Homo sapiens: one gene and its partner. The protein of the gene in region 1 interacts with the protein of each later gene in a pairwise test. Each region holds a gene or a part of one and is shown on either strand. Other genes may lie near its edges.

Evidence for each region.
Region 2: the proteins of PCDH1 (region 1) and ATF7IP interact in a two-hybrid assay, tested with the Homo sapiens proteins (one large-scale study listed by IntAct).

What each region holds. Positions count from the first base shown.
Region 1 is NC_000005.10:141,861,155-141,864,972, reverse strand, and holds part of PCDH1 (protocadherin-1 isoform 2 precursor), read left to right. Parts: coding exon 1-1,741; coding exon of another isoform or gene 1,742-1,825; exon of another isoform or gene 1,826-2,321; intron 2,322-3,818. UniProt on the Homo sapiens protein: May be involved in cell-cell interaction processes and in cell adhesion.
Region 2 is NC_000012.12:14,494,364-14,498,181, forward strand, and holds part of ATF7IP (activating transcription factor 7-interacting protein 1), read left to right. Parts: intron 1-1,867; coding exon 1,868-1,980; intron 1,981-3,290; coding exon 3,291-3,710; 3' UTR 3,711-3,818. UniProt on the Homo sapiens protein: Recruiter that couples transcriptional factors to general transcription apparatus and thereby modulates transcription regulation and chromatin formation. Can both act as an activator or a repressor depending on the context.

The DNA of each region.
Region 1 (3,818 bases):
GAAGAAGTATTTCCTGCAGACTACCACCCCGCTAGACTACGAGAAGGTCAAAGACTACACCATTGAGATTGTGGCTGTGGACTCTGGCAACCCCCCACTCTCCAGCACTAACTCCCTCAAGGTGCAGGTGGTGGACGTCAATGACAACGCACCTGTCTTCACTCAGAGTGTCACTGAGGTCGCCTTCCCGGAAAACAACAAGCCTGGTGAAGTGATTGCTGAGATCACTGCCAGTGATGCTGACTCTGGCTCTAATGCTGAGCTGGTTTACTCTCTGGAGCCTGAGCCGGCTGCTAAGGGCCTCTTCACCATCTCACCCGAGACTGGAGAGATCCAGGTGAAGACATCTCTGGATCGGGAACAGCGGGAGAGCTATGAGTTGAAGGTGGTGGCAGCTGACCGGGGCAGTCCTAGCCTCCAGGGCACAGCCACTGTCCTTGTCAATGTGCTGGACTGCAATGACAATGACCCCAAATTTATGCTGAGTGGCTACAACTTCTCAGTGATGGAGAACATGCCAGCACTGAGTCCAGTGGGCATGGTGACTGTCATTGATGGAGACAAGGGGGAGAATGCCCAGGTGCAGCTCTCAGTGGAGCAGGACAACGGTGACTTTGTTATCCAGAATGGCACAGGCACCATCCTATCCAGCCTGAGCTTTGATCGAGAGCAACAAAGCACCTACACCTTCCAGCTGAAGGCAGTGGATGGTGGCGTCCCACCTCGCTCAGCTTACGTTGGTGTCACCATCAATGTGCTGGACGAGAATGACAACGCACCCTATATCACTGCCCCTTCTAACACCTCTCACAAGCTGCTGACCCCCCAGACACGTCTTGGTGAGACGGTCAGCCAGGTGGCAGCCGAGGACTTTGACTCTGGTGTCAATGCTGAGCTGATCTACAGCATTGCAGGTGGCAACCCTTATGGACTCTTCCAGATTGGGTCACATTCAGGTGCCATCACCCTGGAGAAGGAGATTGAGCGGCGCCACCATGGGCTACACCGCCTGGTGGTGAAGGTCAGTGACCGCGGCAAGCCCCCACGCTATGGCACAGCCTTGGTCCATCTTTATGTCAATGAGACTCTGGCCAACCGCACGCTGCTGGAGACCCTCCTGGGCCACAGCCTGGACACGCCGCTGGATATTGACATTGCTGGGGATCCAGAATATGAGCGCTCCAAGCAGCGTGGCAACATTCTCTTTGGTGTGGTGGCTGGTGTGGTGGCCGTGGCCTTGCTCATCGCCCTGGCGGTTCTTGTGCGCTACTGCAGACAGCGGGAGGCCAAAAGTGGTTACCAGGCTGGTAAGAAGGAGACCAAGGACCTGTATGCCCCCAAGCCCAGTGGCAAGGCCTCCAAGGGAAACAAAAGCAAAGGCAAGAAGAGCAAGTCCCCAAAGCCCGTGAAGCCAGTGGAGGACGAGGATGAGGCCGGGCTGCAGAAGTCCCTCAAGTTCAACCTGATGAGCGATGCCCCTGGGGACAGTCCCCGCATCCACCTGCCCCTCAACTACCCACCAGGCAGCCCTGACCTGGGCCGCCACTATCGCTCTAACTCCCCACTGCCTTCCATCCAGCTGCAGCCCCAGTCACCCTCAGCCTCCAAGAAGCACCAGGTGGTACAGGACCTGCCACCTGCAAACACATTCGTGGGCACCGGGGACACCACGTCCACGGGCTCTGAGCAGTACTCCGACTACAGCTACCGCACCAACCCCCCCAAATACCCCAGCAAGCAGGTAGGCCAGCCCTTTCAGCTCAGCACACCCCAGCCCCTACCCCACCCCTACCACGGAGCCATCTGGACCGAGGTGTGGGAGTGATGGAGCAGGTTTACTGTGCCTGCCCGTGTTGGGGGCCAGCCTGAGCCAGCAGTGGGAGGTGGGGCCTTAGTGCCTCACCGGGCACACGGATTAGGCTGAGTGAAGATTAAGGGAGGGTGTGCTCTGTGGTCTCCTCCCTGCCCTCTCCCCACTGGGGAGAGACCTGTGATTTGCCAAGTCCCTGGACCCTGGACCAGCTACTGGGCCTTATGGGTTGGGGGTGGTAGGCAGGTGAGCGTAAGTGGGGAGGGAAATGGGTAAGAAGTCTACTCCAAACCTAGGTCTCTATGTCAGACCAGACCTAGGTGCTTCTCTAGGAGGGAAACAGGGAGACCTGGGGTCCTGTGGATAACTGAGTGGGGAGTCTGCCAGGGGAGGGCACCTTCCCATTGTGCCTTCTGTGTGTATTGTGCATTAACCTCTTCCTCACCACTAGGCTTCTGGGGCTGGGTCCCACATGCCCTTGACCCTGACAATAAAGTTCTCTATTTTTGGAGTTTTGGTTTCTTATTTTCTGGAACTGAGAGAAGCAGCGAGAGAGACTGGAAGCAGCCCTTTGTCCTCAGGTCCTACCTCAATTTCCCCTTCCCTTCTCTTTGCCTCTTGCCACATCCTAGACCTGCCCATTGTACCCCACACTATCTTAGCCTACCATCTTGCCATCCACCCCCATGTCCCTATCCACGTCTGGGAAAGTGGCCTTCTGACCAGCCTTCAAATGGAGGTGTCTGGCAATGTGTCCCCTTGCCCCATGTCTATAGGGCTTTCTTCCTAAGAATGACCCAGAAAGGGCAGGTGGAGCTATACCCAAGTCCTGCCCCATCTGAGGCTTGATTTTTCCAATCTGCTCAAACAGTTGCCTCTGACAGACCTCAGACTGGAGCACCTGGTAGGGAGTAGCATTCAGCCTTCCTTCCTGCCTTAGGTGAAGGCAGAGAACCTCTTGATTACACCAGCCACCTTCCCCCAGGGCAAGTCCTTCCCTCAAGTCCCTTCCCCAGCCTCTTCATCCCAACAACAGGCAACACCCAGCAATTCGCTGGCCCTCCCCTGTGTCTCCCCACCATGATCACCAGCCTGAGCTGCAGGGAGCGGGGCCCTGGGGGAGACATGGCGAATTCCTAAGTTCTTTGCATTGACCTGCCCTGCACCCCCACTCTTAGGGGGTTCCCTGCTCATGAGCAGAGGCTTCCTAGTTCTGCCTTCCGCCTGTGATGCTACCTCCCTCCCCACTTTCCACTCCTTGCTCTGGCCACCCTGGGTTGCTTGCTTGCACTCTCTCTCTCTCCATCTCTCACTTCTTGCTCTCCTGGGTCTGCCCTGTCTCTGGTTGTGCCTGAGTTGGAGGAAGGCTAAATCGTGGCTGAGGGGCCTCAGGCCCTGGGGGAGTCTCTGAGGCCAGAGGCAACCTATCTCCATGGTGACTAAAGAGGCTTGAGACACTCCCAAGAGGACCAAGGCTCCAGCTCTCTCCTCTGATTCCATCCACAAATTCCCCCAATGCCCTGGGGGGCCCCCAAAGTAAAAACTCCTTGGGTCCTTGGAGGAGTGGGGCCTGGGGAAGTGAGATCTAACCATATCGTGATCTCCAGCAACTCCTGACCTCCCATTCTTTCTCTTCCTTTTCTGTCCTTTCTGGCATTCCTTCCGTCTTTCTCCTATTCCTTTAGCGTCTTCATCTCTTTTTCTTTCCCATGATCTGAGGGATTGTCTCTTACTCAGCTCTAATCCAACCTAACCCATCCATGGAGCCACACTGAATGTCTTCTCCCAACATTCAGATACAACCAAACCACACCACCTGTTGTCATCATCAACACACACAGGCCAAGTTTCCACTGAGTACTCAGCATGGTACTAGACCCTGATGAAAAAATGGCCATACTTGTACAAGACAGACAAGTGAACGATGAGGCAATTGAGTGTCTTGAGTCGAATGAGAAGTGCCCTACTAAAGCTTTTCCCAACTTATTCCATGAAACTACTTCTACTG
Region 2 (3,818 bases), on another chromosome or scaffold:
TGTTTCCTATATATAGTATTCATATAATATATACTATATATAAACTAATAGGATATATATATTTTATATATTATATATGTATTAAACTAATAGGGTATATACATAAAATATATACTACATATAAACTAATTGTATATATACTTTATATCCTACTATATATATACAGTATATCTTAATTATATATAAATATTAAATATATGTAAAATACTTTATATATAGTGAATGTTTATATATATAAAGGGGAGTTTATTAAGTATTAATTTACATAATCAGAAGTTCCCACAATAGACTGGGCATGGTAGCTCACGCCTGTAATCCCAGCAGTATGGGAGGCCAAGGCAGGCAGATCACTTGAGGTCAGGAGTTCGAGATGAGCCTGGCCAACATCGTGAAACCTCATCCCTACCAAAAATACAAAAATTGGCTGGGTGTGGTGGCACAAGCCTGTAATCTCACCTACTTGGGAGGCTGAGGCAGGAGAATCTCTTGAGCCCAGGAGGCGGAGGTTGCAGTGAGCCGAGATCATGCCACTGCACTCCAGCCTGGGCAACAGAGCCAGACTCTGTCTCAAAAAAAAAAAAAAAAAAAAAAAGATCCCACAGTAGGCTGTCTGCAAGCTGAGGAGCAAGGAAGCCAGTCTGAGTCCCAAAACTGAAGAACTTGGAGGCCAATGTTCCAGGGCAGGAAGCATCCAGCACAGGAAAAAGATGTAGGCTGGGAGGCTAAGGCTAAGCCTGTCTCTCCTTTTCACGTTTTTCTGCCTGCTTTATATTTTCTGGCAGCTGATTAGATTGTGCCCACCAGATGAAGGGTGGATCTGCCTTCCCCAGTCCACTGACTCAAATGTTAATCTCTTTTGGCAACATCCTCACAGGCCCACCCAGGGTTAATACTTTGTGTCCTTCAATCTAATCAAGTTGACACTCAGTATTAACCATCACACATATGTTGTAGTTTTGCAAAATGTGACAGCAAGGGAAAATATAGCTATTTAAAGAAACACAGTAATGCTATCATTTAGAAAATAAACTGATTGGAGTCCCTGGATCATAGCTTGGCTTCAACTCTCTCAAGTTTACAAGAGCGTTGTCTGGGAAAATTAATCAACAAGGTTAGAAATGAGTTCTGGGAAACTTGGCTCACTATAGTCCAGGAACCAGGCCGAACTACAGCATGGGCCAGGTACTGAATAAATGGCAGGAATATAGTTAGGGCAGTAGGTGGCTCTAAATTTTCTCTTTTTGTTTCCCTGGTGTATGTCACAGCAGTTTTCTGTGGGGTGAAGTGAGTATCCTCAACCAAGGAGCTGGGCATGGAGAAAATGAGAGGAACCTCATTAATACATGGCAAGGATGACTTATTCTGGCTTTCTGTCCTGGTTGAAAAGATGAGACTGCAGAGATTTTTATGAAGATACTCCCAGTTTGTCTGTCTTTTGAGTCACACTGCTCCATTATGGCCATTTACCTTTTACATGTGGTACACAACCAGTGTTCTAGGATTTTTGTTCATAGTTCTCCTGGTAACGATCCATTTATTTCTCCCTGTGCTGGACCTCCTGTTGCTTGTGTCTCGTGTTTTTCTCTTTATTTTCTCACGTACTGGTGGCACATATTCTCCATTGACTATTTGAGAAAGGGTTTGTGGTAGTTAGAATTTTTTTTTAGTGCTTGCATGTAAGAAAGTTTTTTTATCCACAGGCTGATTGATAGCTTGGCTGAATACGAACAGGACCTCTAGGTTAGAAATATCTTTCCTTTCGAATCTTGAAAACATTGCTTCACTGCCTTCAAATATTTAATCAGTTTTCCACCAAATTTACAATAGAATTATCATTTTATCCTGTAATTTTTTTGTTTGTTTGTAGGTGTTACAGTTCGAGTGCCTCAAACAACCACATATGTTGTAAACAATGGACTAACCCTGGGATCAACAGGACCTCAGCTCACAGTGCATCACCGACCACCACAAGTGCATACTGTAAGTGTTGATGCTTGGTTTTGCAAAATTCTCAACTGTAGAGGTATAAAATATTATTGTATTTGGCATTTTTCTTTAAAATGGTTATATCCAAGGGAAGTGTTAGGTCTTCCTGCTTTTTCAGAAGTTTATTTCTAAAAATTGATCTTACCATTATGAACACATAGTTCCTAGGGATGATGATCATTTAGAATCATTGAGTTTGCTTGTGGTGTACAGTGTACAAAAACAGGTCCACAGTTGGGGTATATGAAGTGAAATATAGACCATTTCTAATTCATAGTTAAATTAAAAAGGACATTTTTCATTTCTCCATGTGTTAATTTTATTCTTTCGTTCTAAACTATGCCACATCTAACTGCTACATTGTCATCAATTAATTGTTCTAAAGAATCCAATGATATTGGGAATTCATTAGTTAAGAGGTAACAGAGATAACCAAAGATTTCTCCTTAGATTTAGCCTCCAAAACAATGTCACATTATCCTGTGACACAATTTTGTCAGTGTTTGACTGGTATGAAATATCATTATAATGATGATGATGTTCCAGTGTTAGAAAAGTCAATAGGACTTCCTAAAGTTAGAGTCATGTTTTTTCATCATCTGGCCTTAACCTACCTTTCCAGATTTTTCTTCATGTACCCTATGTCCAAGAAAAAGTTAATACTTGTTCTTGTCCATACGTCCCCTCACTTTACTGTCCACATGCCTTTGCTCATGCTTTATTTTTGGCTGAAAGGTACATGATTATTTCTGCATCTCTGGATCCTCCTTCACAGTTGAGTTTAAATATCACCTTTTTCTTGTAAATTGGCCAAGAATATAGTACACATTTAGTGTTAATGTGCTTATTTATAAATAACTTAAAAATGAAAGTATATTTGTATTCTCCAATTTTATATGATCTTGGTTGCCATACATGATATTTAAAAATGTTACATCATACTGAAATGATAATCTGTAACATAGATAATTCAATCATAAATTATTTTGTTAGAAATAGATCATTACTTCCGTGTTCCTCAAAATGATGTTCCGTCAGCAGGGGCTTTTTATTTCCTAAGAAAAACTCAAAATATTTTAGGTCTAGGAAGTATAGTAGGAATAACCTCAGCATCATTGTTTGTAGCATGATTCATTACAAAACCCCAAATAGAACTTGCCAAATTTGATATGGTATTTGGTATTTCCTAGAATTCTTGATATAAAATGATACTTCTACGTATGTTCTCTAAGGTGTTTTAATTCTAACATTCTAAAATAGTTCTTTTTGCAATCATCATTAATCAGTGTGACCTGTTTCTTCAGGAGCCCCCACGCCCCGTGCACCCAGCACCCTTACCAGAAGCTCCACAACCACAGCGTCTGCCCCCAGAAGCTGCCAGCACATCTCTGCCTCAGAAGCCACACTTGAAGTTAGCACGCGTTCAGAGTCAAAATGGCATAGTACTGTCATGGAGTGTCCTGGAGGTGGATCGAAGCTGTGCCACTGTTGATAGCTACCATCTCTATGCTTACCATGAGGAACCCAGTGCCACTGTGCCCTCACAATGGAAAAAGATTGGGGAAGTCAAGGCACTTCCCTTGCCCATGGCATGTACTCTCACCCAGTTTGTATCTGGTAGCAAATACTACTTTGCAGTACGAGCCAAGGATATTTATGGACGTTTTGGGCCTTTCTGTGATCCTCAGTCAACAGATGTGATCTCTTCTACCCAGAGCAGTTAAACCTTGGAGCCTTTATATTTTCCTCTTTTAAAATTTCCACCTTTTGGTCTTGTTTTTAATCTTGTGCATGATACCCCATGTAAAATCCACCTTGTGCAAGATTTCTTG